Regions from separate parts of the Homo sapiens genome. Here all the other regions are reported to be linked to region 2. Evidence: microRNA targets listed by miRTarBase, many of them from high-throughput screens and not tested one by one. Region 2 holds a microRNA gene; each other region holds the end of a gene's coding sequence.
What was found. The annotated mature microRNA hsa-miR-3662 reads GAAAAUGAUGAGUAGUGACUGAUG and lies in region 2 at 992-1,015, opposite strand. An mRNA with a match to its seed (bases 2 to 7 or 8) in the 3' UTR can be bound and repressed. Matches are read on the target gene's strand: a 7mer-m8 pairs with bases 2 to 8, a 7mer-A1 pairs with bases 2 to 7 and ends in A, and an 8mer does both.

Region 1 (3,167 bases), not on the chromosome of region 2:
AGCTGGGCATCGTGGTGGGTGCCTGTAATCCCAGCTACTCGGGAGGCTGAGGCAGAAGAATCGCTTGAACCTGGGAGGTGGAGGTTGCAGTGAGCTGAGATGGCGCCACTGCACTCCAGCCTGGGCGACAGTGCAAGACTCTGTCTCAAAAATAAAATAAAATAAACTTAGTACTACATAATCTAACACTGAAAATGACAATGTTACTAACATGCCACTTTTACTGGTCAAATTGAAAAAGATTTTAATGTAAGGCAGTACCCAAAGATCTTCACAAAGATTTATGAACAAATGATAATCACTGCAGCCTAGTTAACAGTGACCATTTTCTTACAATTTAAATGTCCAGAAATAATTTGCAGAACACAGAATATGATGGAGCTATCCTCTTAACAGACTTAAGAACAGGAGGAAATGCTAAAAATGTTTAACATAGCATATAAACCAATAAAAATATGACCCCAGTATTTAAAAAGTGTATACAGAAAAGAGACCAGAAGATTTACACAAACTCTTTAATGGTGGTTGGGATCTTGGGTGATTTTAATGTAATTCTTATCCTGTTTCATATTTCTAAAATACACGTGTATATCCCTTTCAACTAAAACACAACACAGTATGGCTCACTCCTGTAATCCTAGAACTTTGGGAGACCGAGATGGTCAGATCACTTGAGCCCAAGAGTTAAGAGAGACCAGCCTGGGCAACATGGCAAAAAATACAAAAATTACCTGGGTGTGGTGGCACATGCCTGTAGTCCAAGGTACTCAGGAGGTGAAGGTGGGAGGATCACCTGAATCCAGGGAGGTCAAGGCTGCAATGAGCTGTGATTGTGCCACTGCACTCCAGCCTAGGTGACAGGGTGAGACCCTATCTTAAAAGAAAGCCCACCATAATTGTTATTTTGAAAACAATTCAGTATTCCTTTTGTTTTATCTATTATTTATTTTTGAGAGAGGGTCTCACTCTGTTGTCCAGGCTGGAGTGCAATGGCATGATCTTGGCTCATTGCAACCTTCACCTCCTGGGCTCAAATGATCCTTGCACCTCAGCCCTCCGAGGAGCTGGGACTACAGTTGCATGCCACCATGCCCAGCTAATTTTTGGTAGAGATGGGGTTTTGCCATGTTGCTCAGGCTAGTTTTCGACTCCTGAGCTCATGCAATCCACTCGCCTCAGTTTCCCAAAGTGCTGGGATTACAGGTATGAGTCACAGTGCCTGGCCCAGTATTCCTTTTGAAGAGAAAATTTTATCTGGGAATCTCTCAAAAACATCAAAGATTGTTTTGCATGAAATTAACTCGAATTAATTTTTGGTAGGGATAAACTGGAAACAAACATTCAGTAGTAGGAGATATATCAAACATCCATAAAAGGGAGTATTTTGCAGCCATAGACAATTGTTTTTAATGACCTAAGAAACTGCTCACAGAGGAAAATACATAAAATTCTATAGAATGATCAAATAGGCTAAAAATAGAAAAAAACGCTAGCAGCAAATAATACCAAAATGTCAACAAGCCTCTCTGGATAAGGGATTACTAATGATTTTTAGTTTCTTTCTACTTTACTCTATTTTCTAAATTTCCAGTAAGTATTTTAACATCAGAAAAGAACCTTAAAATGAAAAAGTTATTTAACACACTATTTTTAAAATTACCCAATACAGTGTCTTGAAAACATGCCAACTTCCAAATATCTCACTGCCCTTCCTGTTTCTTCAACAATGGTGTTCTGAAGCATGGGAGGAAACATGAAGTAGTAAAAGGCAGTTTTTGTACACTTTACTTCAGTTATATATTAGAGATTTTGAAGATCTACTACATAAGCCTACACATTCACATTGTATACTTTTCTGGTGCCAGAACTACTAAGGTAGTGGAAATCAGCCAAGAGATGGTGGTTTTACCACATACTCATAACTGCAGAGGCTTTACAGACTCTTTAAAATCTTTTGTATAATAATTTCGAAGGTAAAATTAGTTTATCTTTCCCAGGTGAAAACAAAGCCTCTGATATCAACTCCACTACAAAGCCATTTGCAGGCAATCAAGACGACTAAAAATACTTCTGGTGATGATGACTGGCAGAGCCTCATTACGAATCAACTAAATAAAAGTGAAAATTTACTAAGTTTAGAAAATGACAACCAGCCAAAGAAAAGAAAAGCAGAAGAGACGTTGGAAAAAAACAACAGATTAAAATAATGTAGATAAGTGCTTTCAGTAGTGAAATTATGTAACTGAAATTCTGGTATAGTTTTTACTAGAATAAAATGACTGTTGTATTTAAAGCTCTACAGTTTGTCTTTGCTTTTCCAAGTTTTTCTAATGTGAAGAAATTGTATTACTCTACTTCTGTCTTCTCTCTGTATATTATCCTTTCTTTAAAGTGCTCATTGCTTCTTCAATATCCTTTTTTAAAGAACAGAATTTATGTATTGTATGACAGACATTGTGACCCCTTGTAATTTATTACTTCATATCCTCTGGAGTTTGTGATTTTAGTATAAATTTGAGACAATAACTGTCCAGACTAGGCAAATTTTTTTAGTTTATAATGTTTTACTATGATTTAGGGCTTTTTTTTCAAAGAACAAAAATTATAAGCATAAAAACTCAGGTATCAGAAAGACTCAAAAGGCTGTTTTTCACTTTGTTCAGATTTTGTTTCCAGGCATTAAGTGTGTCATACAGTTGTTGCCACTGCTGTTTTCCAAATGTCCGATGTGTGCTATGACTAAAAATTGAAAAATTAAACACAGTGTTAGTCAACCTTTTAGCCTCTGGTATTCTTTTATAATACTACAGATTTGAATCCAGTTAAAAGCAAGATTAAATATACCTAATTTAGAATAGTAAGAGAATTTAAGAATTACATAATTATTTAAAAAAAATCTTTACCATATTGATCCTAAGCCTTCTAATTCTCCTGAGCAACTATATAAAGCAGACATAAAAGTCATTAGTATTCTAGCCAATGCTCAGCCATTAAATGAAATGTGCTGGAAAATAGGACTCTTTCATTAAATAAGCTAATCACATTCAGTCTGAACTTTAATAAAATTATGATAAATAGCAACTATTTAACTACAGTCAAGTGATAACACCACCTTGGTTCTCTAAACATTTAAGTGAAATAATCGGAACAAACTAAATCGTTCTATA
Region 2 (3,167 bases):
GAAGTAAGTAAACTTTAGAACACAGTGAAAATGTGTCTATCATTTTTCCCTGGATAAATTTTATTATCATTACTTTGTATCCTATTTATTATTAAATATCTTCTCAATGCCTTTTAAAAAGTCCTCAGGCTCAAAGATCAAAATAAAAAACAAAATAAAAACGATTTTCTAATTATAAGTTTTTCTGGATTACAGTAATAAGATGTTAATTCAAAATAAATATAGTATCACCACTTGTAAAGAAAGTTACCACTTTTAGGATAAAGTTACTTTGAATTTATAAAAACAGGAATAATAAAACATTTTGGAACTTACAGGAAATCCTTTAGTGATAGGAATTTCAATATTAAAGATGAGGATTCGGGCTCTGAAACGAGTGCAAGCTTTAATGGGTACTTTGGGGCCACAAAATATGCAGCCAACACTGTAAGAACAACAAAAAAAGAGGAAAGGTAATTGGGGGACAAATTTACATCAAATAGAAAGACCTCAAAAACATTTACAAGGAAAGTAAAACAATTAAGTAAATTAGGGACTTTTTCTAAATATTCTCTTCTGAGCTAAAGCATGACTTTAAACCATTATTAACCTTATGTCATTTTTATACATTAGAGCTTTCACTCAAAGCACATGCCAAGTATGTGTGCTGACATGTATTAATTCAAATTTTAAGTAAGTTTGCTTACATTTACACAGGTGTCTATTTTTGGTCAAATGAAATTCAAAATTGAACTAGCAGGTTGCAAAATATATGTGTTTAGAGGTGAGGTCCTATATGAAGACAACGGTTGCTTAAACTCATTTTCTCACTCACTTGATTTTGATGATATCCATCCCAACCAAAGTAAGACTAACATGATCGCCTGCTGCCGCCCAGTCGACAGGTTCATCATGCAGAGTGATTCCTGGAAATGAGTAAGAACCAAAGCATACAGTGAAACACCTCGATATCAAACCATAACAACCAACAGAGTTTGGCTGATTTGTGCTTCATCAGTCACTACTCATCATTTTCAATATGAATGGATTGAGAGTAAGAAGTGTAACTGTGAGCGTTGAGGAAAACACACTTCCTCTAGAACTGACTCTTCTAGAATACCACCCTAAACATAAAGTGACTTGTATTTGCCCATAAAAGGCTGACTTCTGCTTATTTAATCAAGATTTTTAAACTAATTGACACAATTGGTATATTCATTAAACAGGCCCCATTCAAATATTTCTATCATATTAATGGATACAGACAAAATAAAACACAGTTCAAATTATTCATAATGACATAAAAGATGGGCTGGAGAAGATGTCTAGCAGTATTTTCTTCTCGAGTTTTGCTTTTAATTAGACAACCACCTAAACAAATAATCCTTGTTTTCCAAGTAACCCATGGGACATGTACACTCAGTCAGAATTTCAAGCGGTCCTCTCAGCAGGCCCCTTAACTACTCCTGGCTCAAAAGAACTTCTTTCCAGAGAGAGATCTGCATACTAATGACTAGTTATATGAAAAGAAAAATATTAAGGAAATAGTGATAAGAAAATTTAATTTTAAAATGATCCTAGGTGTTGCTATATATCTAGAGATATACATCTATTTACCTAGACATAGTCCTGAAGGTAGTCGGAGAGAGCAGTTCCCAAGGGCAATACTCAGCTACCTTACTCAAAGGCTTTTAAAATATATCCCATATTTTCTGATTTTATGGAATACATTTATGGATTAAGTTCCTTTCCATAGAAATGTAGGCCTTTTGACAAAGAGAATGTGTAGGCCAACCACTGTGGATAGTTCTTGATTGACACATTGACATGTTCTTAGTAAATTATAATCCACCCATATCTTTCTGAAAATACTCATTTTCTATGCAGCAGGGAGAGTTTCTGACTTTTAGGGAGCTCAAGGATTTAACTTTAAGAGCTCTGAGACAATCTAGAGTTTCATGCAAAATATCATGTATGTGCACATCTGCATTAATCTGAGAAAAGAAGGCATAACTTTCTTCAGGTATCAGAGATTCTTCCTCCCAAACATGTTAGCAATTATCGTATTAAGGAATGTTTGTTAAATATCAACTTACTAGATTTAATTTTAAAATGTAAATTTAGAATGAACATATCTGAATTTTGCTATGAAATATGGGATTAAAAACAGAAGCTAGGTATTTACACACAATAGAGATTGACTTTGGCTTAAACATTTGTAGATGTTTTATACTACAAGTTCAATTAACAGTATAAAATTTTCCAAAGGTAATTATATTCTCTGGTTCTTCTTCCCCTCAATCATGTTACACTGTTCCACATATGACATTTATCAAAAAACTTTTCTCATTGGACAAACATTACAAAAAGAGGCTCTTTTTTAATACTCTATGAGCTTGATATGTTAATAAAGTAAAAAAAAAAAAGTAATTTAGAATTTCTATTTGTTGGTAGTAGATTCAGTCAAGTCTTTCTTTTGGGACAGTACTGGTTAAAGAGCCACAGTAGTACCTAAAAATGTTTAGACAGAACAGTGCTTTCAAGAATCAAGTAAACCAAGCAAAAGCAGTAAGGTTAGAATGGAGGAAGGAGAACCTCTCTGTTGAGTTAAAAGACTGGCTCTCAAGAAGTAGGGTGGTTCTTCCCTGGGGCTTCTGATAAGACTTACACTGATAAAAGATAATACTTTAGAGTTTCTCTGTGTGGAAAGTACAGAGAAGAGGAGGGTAAAGAATGTGAGACTTTCAGAGATGACTAAGGATTTTAGAGGTTACAAGGGAGCCAACCTCAAGGTCTGTGATAACTTTAGGATCATGGTTTTAATTTATGGCTCTTAATCATAAAAAAATTCTTGTTCTCAAAAAAGATCATTAACATACCAAAAAAATCGTGTTTCAAAAGTATTATAGCTCTTGTCACTTTAAAAAACAAAAGCAGAGACCTGTACTTGCACACAATGAACAGATCTATAGAAAATGACACTATTTTTAAAGTGCATATTACTTTTTATCAAAACTGAAATTTCATGATCTCTAGTGGGCACAAATAAAAAGGTCAAATGGAAATAACTGATTTTCATTCCCTTATTCATCTTTAAATATAGGTTAAACCATGTAACTTCAATAGATATTAATTTCTTAAACTTTTCAAGAAATCTTCTTTTAAAGAGAGCATATGAATTCAAGAAA
Region 3 (3,167 bases), not on the chromosome of region 2:
AGGAGTTCGAGACCAGCCTGGGCAACACGGTGAAACCCCGTCTCTACTAAAATACAAAAAATTAGCTTGGCATGGTGGCACGTGCCTGTAATCCCAGCTATGCTGGAGGCTGAGACAGAAGAATCGCTTGAACCTGGGAGGTGGAGGTTGCAGTGAGCCAAGATCACGCCACTGTACTCCAGCCTGGGTGACAGAGTGAGACTCCATCTCAAAAAAAAAAAAAAAAAAAAAACACTTTACTGAGTGGCTGCCATGCACCAGATACTGCGCAAGGCTCTGGAGGTTTAGAGATGAATGACATATAGTCAGCCAGGAACTCTCAGCATGGTGGGACTGAGAAACCAGTAAGTAGCCAATTTCAGATCACTGAAATGCTAGCAAATGTAGATAGTCCTCAAGGAGTCTAAAAAAGAAAGTCCAACACTGAGATCAGGAAAGAACCTGGGAGATGATACTTAAGCTGTCTGCTTCTGCAATTTTTGAGGGATTGTCTCACTATTTTGTCACATACTTTTTTTTAGTGCAGAGACACTCCGGCAGGAACTGGAGAGAGAGAAGATGATGAAAAGACTGTTGATGACCGAACTGTGAAATTCTCCCCTTGTCACCTGGAAGATGGCATGGTGCCTTCTGTCCGTCTTCTTTCTTCGGGCTTTGTGTGCTCACTCTAGCACAGCATACAAGTGTGTGCTCTGTTCGCCCAGGTCTCCATGGTTAGTTGAAGCCAATTTCTGGCTTGACTTTTATGGGAAAAGTTATTTTATGTCTCCTAAGCATTAGAGTTTTTCTATTACTCTATGTAGTTGAGACAGGATTTGATAAGTCTAGGAAAAGAAAGATGGGAAAACGGGATTCCTTTTCAGAAGTACCTGTGTGTATCTGTTAATAACCACAGGGGTTAATATGATGTAGGATCTTTTACTATCAATTTCAACCATTTGATTTTGTATGATTGAAACTTGCACCGAGCTTTGACTGTTTGTTAAAGAGTCATTTTTAATGAAAGAATAATTCTTTATTGCTGGTTTTTCATTTACACTGATAAATACACAGATCTTATAAAGTCTTTAACATTCATTTGTATTCAGATGTGAGTAGAAGAACTAAAAAAAGAAAGTTACATATCACTATGACTGAAGGTACTTCAGCTTAATCTGAAATATAATTTAACTTGTGAACTCCTTGGATATGATATTATTTGGAATAAACAGAATTTATCATTGAACCCAAAGTAGGAAATGATAGCTTACATTGTCTAAAAATCCTTACAAGGTTAAGATGATTCAATATCAAGAAGATTCAGAAAATTATTTCTAAAGTTGATCGATTCATGTCGTATTGATAGAATCTTGACCAGAAGAAATTTTGCTCTTTTTATATAGTTTCAAGAAATGTGTTTTTAAATTTTTATTAATGCACTTGAACAACTTTGCAGGAATAAAGCAACCCCCTAACCACAAAATATCCCTCTAAATTAGTTCCCTAGCTTTCTCAATGAATACACACATATTTTTACATAGCTATGATCGTTGTGTACATTCTCCTTTGTTTTACTTCTCGGCCTAACACTTGTCTCCTCTTGTCAACACAGATTCTACTCTCACCAATTTAAATGTCTTTATATCCATGTAACATGGGTAACCTCACTTCACCCCATTATTAGATATTTGAGTTATATCTAATTTTTCACTCTTATAAATAGTGCTGCTATGAATGTCTGTAAAAAAAAAAAACTGCTCCTTCTTTTGGATTATTCCCTTAGGAATATCTCCAAAGAGGGATTACAAGGTCAAAGAGCATGAAGTATTTTATAGCTCTTGTTTTATATTGCCAGATTGCTTTCTAGAAAGATCCAATCTTTGGGTTGGAAGGACCTTAAAGGTCATCTAGTTTAGCCTCCCCACCCCCTCTGAATGCTTGAATCCCCTCGACAATTTATGATGCCACCAGCAATGTATAAGCATTTCTGTTTACCAATAGCTCTGCCAGTATTGGGTTTTGCCATTTTTATTTATTTTTGCTAGTTTAATAGGTATGTATAGTTGTTCTTGAAGAGTTGTTTTATTTCATTAATTGCTAGCAAGGCTGAGCACTTTTCCATGTGATGATTTACTAGTTGTATTTCCTTGTGTGTAAAATGTTCATTCATTTCTTATGACCACTTGTTAAGAGGAACTGATCTCATATATTTGTATCAGAACTGTATTTTTATGTTATATTGTATAGTTTGCTCTCCTGCCCCTCTCCTTAAAACTGAATGGTGCCAATAATTTGATACTAATGACTACAAAAAAAGGTAATGCCTCATTTACTAGTATTGTTGTAAAATGAGGAATGTATGTGAATATTCAGATAACCGAGGATTAACCCTTTAAGTGCTGAATCTTTAAAATTTTAATATATTTTTTTTTGAGGGAAATCTTTCTAAAATGTATTACGCACTTCCCTGCCTTAGTAAACAGAGTATACTGGAGAGTATTTAACCTTTTCTTGATGAGTCATGGTCATGATTATAAACATCAGCCCCTTTTATACCTTGGTACGGTGCAGTGATATCATTAAGAGCTATCAATATGTGTAGGGCTTGGCTTGGCCTTTTATAGGATATTATGCTGTTCTCACTGATGGTTTTTTACTGCTCTCTGCTCTGTCAGTGGAGCTATCCGGGGCAATTGTAGCGTTTGGGTCCTTTTACCCCTATGTCCCCCGGCTATACTTTTAAAACAGCTTTAGCTGTTCTTTATCTTGTGCACATGATACAAAATATGTTCCCGTACAATATGGGGCTGTCACTTCTTGCCAACCCAGCACCCTCTTCCTCTTCTAACCTGCTTTCTGAGGCTTCTGCTCTTCACCTCCTGCTCGCTGATGGAAACCTCCAGGGCAAAGCTGAAGGTTTCTTGGGGAAGCCAGGAAAGCCAGTATTTCCTATGTGTCAGATCTGCTTGGCTTCCAAGAAGGGATGCATGGGCTTTTTGGCCAGTGTTTCCAGGAGGCTCTGGGCTTCCTGCTTCTTCCCCGCTTCCCCCAGAGTTCACAGATGTTGAAGTTTCTGAAGGTTGACGTCACTGGAAGTCTGACCACAAACAAGTTGGCTGTTACTGTATTTGAAACCCAGTACCTTTGGCAGCTCACCTCTAACCAGTAAAATAAGAGGATTCCATGGT
Region 4 (3,139 bases), not on the chromosome of region 2:
AGTGTTGGGATTATAGGGATGTGCCACCATGCACGGCCTGTGCTTCCTCTTATGTGAAATGCTTCGTTATACCTTTGGTGCATTTTTCTATTGGGTTATCTGTGCTTTCTTTATTGATTTGTTGAAGTTCTTCATACATTCTTTGTCTGTTGTTTGTATTAGAAATATGGTGAACATCCTCTCCTGGCCTTTAACTTGTTTTCTCCGTTTCTATATCTTTTAATGAACAAAAGCTCTAATTTCATTATAGTATCTGGCATTTATGTCTCGTTTAAGCAGTCTTTCCCTTGGCCGGGTGTGGTGGCTCACATCTGTAATCCCAGCACTTTGGGAGGCCAAGGTTGGAGGATTGCTTGAGGCCAGGAGTTCAAGACCAGCCTGGGCAACATAGCAAGGCCCCATCTCTCTATAGAAAGAAATAATAATAAAATTTTAAAATAAATCTTTCCCTTAAGGAATCTGAAGGATAATCTGAGTCTGAGGGGAGTGATCACAATTAGGCCCAGGTCAGAGGCCAGTCACAGAGGCAAGCTTGTTTATGCTTACCGAGGCACAGCATAACTGTCTGAGGCAGTCCTGACCAGCCAGCACAAGCGGCCAGCTGGCTGACTGGCAGGTGTGCTCTGGCTATAGAACTGGATATATCATGCTATTAGAGCTGGGTGCTATTAAAAAGTCTAATCATAGACTTTAATTAACTTTCCTTGCTCTGACGCCCGCTCACTAAGCAACCTTCTGATTATAATTTGGCTTCCCATGTATCTTGCCTACAGGGAGAGAATGTACTGCTCAGGCCGACGTGAGGATCCAATCCACTCACCGGTTACATGCCACGATGTAAATTAATAAATTCGCATTCTGATTTTATCATCTGCCTCATCTGAGGTCTGTAGGCGTGAGTCAGCATCCCCTAGTTTAATCAACATGGACACTGAGACTATCAAGCTTTTGAGCTGAAAAGCTAAGAATTAGACCCAGGACCAGAGTGAAATCACCAAGGTAACATTGCCCTGGAGGCCCCTTGGCCTGATGAAGGAGGACTTCTTACATGTCATGCGATACAGACAGGGATTAAAGTCGACTTCTGACATTATAAAGAGTTGCATATTCAAAACTATAGCTTGGTTCCATTCAGGTGAAGGCAAAGAATAGGAGATGATCATGAAACTCACATTGAATATTTATTGGCTTATAAGCACACACCAGATGCTGTACAAATCCTAGGCAGGAGGTTAAGATTTACAGACATGTTTGGTAAAAGCAAAAAAACAAAAACAAAACAACAACAAAAGGACAGATGGTACGTGCTGAGGTGAAATGAAACAAGAGGCAGCTGGTTGATGAATTCTTGCTCTACTTAGGAACTTGTGGTCCAGGATACAAAATAGACAGACACACACACACAAACACACACACACACACACACACACACACACACACACACACAAACCAGGACAAGGAAACACAGGATACACCACAGCACAAATGGGAATGTGCCAGGGCAGTGAGATTATCCAGGCCAGATGAGTGATTTAGGACCTGTAAGATGAGGCCTAGATCTTTGAAGTGAGTTCAAAAGGCAAAGAGGAGGTAAGCCCATTAGGACAGATGGGGATAATTTCACCATCCTGCAATTTAGATGGTCACTTCACCCAGCCTTCCTGGGCACAGTACCTACAGTGACACAGATCCCCTCCCGCCATCCTGGTCACACTGAATAACAAAGGGAAGAGAGGAGTAAGAACTGTAGTATCTAGAAATTCTCAGCACAGTGAAGGAAAGTGATCTTCTACTTTGTATTCAGGCCTAAAAAAGGAGGGGACGGGCCCGGCACAGTGGCTCACACCTGTAATCCCAGCACTCTGGGAGGCCAAGGAGGGCAGATCACCTGAGGTTGGGAGTTTGAGACCAGCCTGACCAACATGGAGAAACCCTGTCTCTACTAAAAACACAAAATTAGCCAGGCATGGTGGCATGCGCCTATAAACCAAGCTACTCAAGAGGCTGAGGCAGGAGAATTGCTTGAACCCAGGAGGCAGAGGTTGTGGTGAGCCAAGATCGAGCCATCACACTCCAGCCTGGGCAACAAGAGCAAAACTCTGTCTCAAAAAAAAAAAAACAGGAGAGGAGGGAGGGAGAGACCTTCACTGATATCCCTACAAGATTTGCTGCTCAAAGGAAAATATTTTCCAGGAAGACTGCGAGAAATTAAAGGAAATTCTACATCATCTTTGAGACCCACCTAAAGACAAGTGGTGTCTCCCACAGTGCCACCAGAGCAAGGTCACTGGCTTGGCTAGATGTGGATGAGGGTAGAGAATCATCTCAGATGTTCTTTGGTTCTAAAAATGAGGTAGAGAGAGACATGCCACCCAGGAAGGGGTGATGCTGAGTGCAGCCGCCCAGCCAGCAGGGTGGAAGGAGAAACAGACAAAAGGCTCATCAAAAACAGCAGGACCAAAATTGAGCAGGCTGGCAGAACCAGTTCTTGCAGGGACACTGCCAGGACACACGACTCCAGGGAGCTGGCTGGAGAGGGGCAGGCCTGTGTGCTCCACAAACCCAGAGGGCTCTGACTCACACAGGTAGGAAAGAGCTCCTTTAACAATGGCCTCAGTGCGTGCACGTGTGGGTACAAATAAATGTAGACAGAGCAGAGCCATCGCCTAGTAGAGGTTGTCCCGCACATGCTCCATGATGGTCTTCAGCCCCAGCCACGTCTCCTCTGCAGTGGGGATGATCTGGTTAGCTGGCAGGAGGAAGCCATAGGTCCCGGTATCTCTCAACTCAAATGTGAATGCAAATTTGATGCCGTTGTCATATGCCCAGTCGATGCTGCTCCCGCTAGCTGGATCTGTAAGTCGGAGGACAAAACACTCTTGAAGCCCAGTTCCCTCCTGGGTTAGATGGGAAGGGGCCAAGAGCTCTGCCTGCCTGGGGTTCCTTAAGGAATCCAGAGTTTGCTCCTCAAGTCATCAGTCCTATGACAAAATCATCAGCCTGATCCCTATGTCTCAGGACATCCTGCATTGGCCTGAGGTGCACACTGGTCTCAAATCAAGAGATCTGAAACCCCTACTCCCACCTTATTACTAACGCTGTGTCCGTCCTGTAAGTCCCTCAAAACCAATCTCTATAG

Region 1: the mRNA of EIF3M is a reported target of hsa-miR-3662. Seed matches in the 3' UTR shown: 8mer at 2,272-2,279, 7mer-m8 at 2,140-2,146, 8mer at 1,620-1,627 and 7mer-m8 at 192-198.
Region 3: miRTarBase lists EPB41L4B as a target of hsa-miR-3662. Seed matches in the 3' UTR shown: 7mer-m8 at 991-997.
Region 4: the mRNA of CPA4 is a reported target of hsa-miR-3662. Seed matches in the 3' UTR shown: 7mer-m8 at 2,346-2,352.

What each region holds. Positions count from the first base shown.
Region 1 is chr11:32,601,851-32,605,017 of GRCh38, reverse strand. It overlaps EIF3M (eukaryotic translation initiation factor 3 subunit M), which reads right to left. Exons shown (of 11, transcript NM_006360.6): 11 at 1-2,739. The coding sequence ends at 2,619. CCDC73 (coiled-coil domain containing 73) reads left to right here. Exons shown (of 18, transcript NM_001008391.4): 18 at 1,998-2,297. The coding sequence ends at 2,207. Among named protein-coding and RNA genes, the nearest start is that of EIF3M, 20 kb to the right of the region's middle.
Region 2 is chr6:134,978,364-134,981,530 of GRCh38, forward strand. It overlaps MIR3662 (microRNA 3662), which reads right to left and starts at 1,069; the gene lies at 975-1,069. It overlaps HBS1L (HBS1 like translational GTPase), which reads right to left. Exons shown (of 18, transcript NM_006620.4): 14 at 815-905; 15 at 316-424.
Region 3 is chr9:109,171,978-109,175,144 of GRCh38, reverse strand. EPB41L4B (erythrocyte membrane protein band 4.1 like 4B) reads left to right here. Exons shown (of 26, transcript NM_019114.5): 26 at 522-3,167. The coding sequence ends at 591. Among named protein-coding and RNA genes, the nearest start is that of FRRS1L, 6.3 kb to the right of the region's middle.
Region 4 is chr7:130,322,204-130,325,342 of GRCh38, reverse strand. It overlaps CPA4 (carboxypeptidase A4), which reads right to left. Exons shown (of 11, transcript NM_016352.4): 11 at 1,163-2,854. The coding sequence ends at 2,667. The region is part of intron 1 of LOC105375503 (a long non-coding RNA gene); the gene reads left to right. Among named protein-coding and RNA genes, the nearest start is that of CPA5, 21 kb to the left of the region's middle.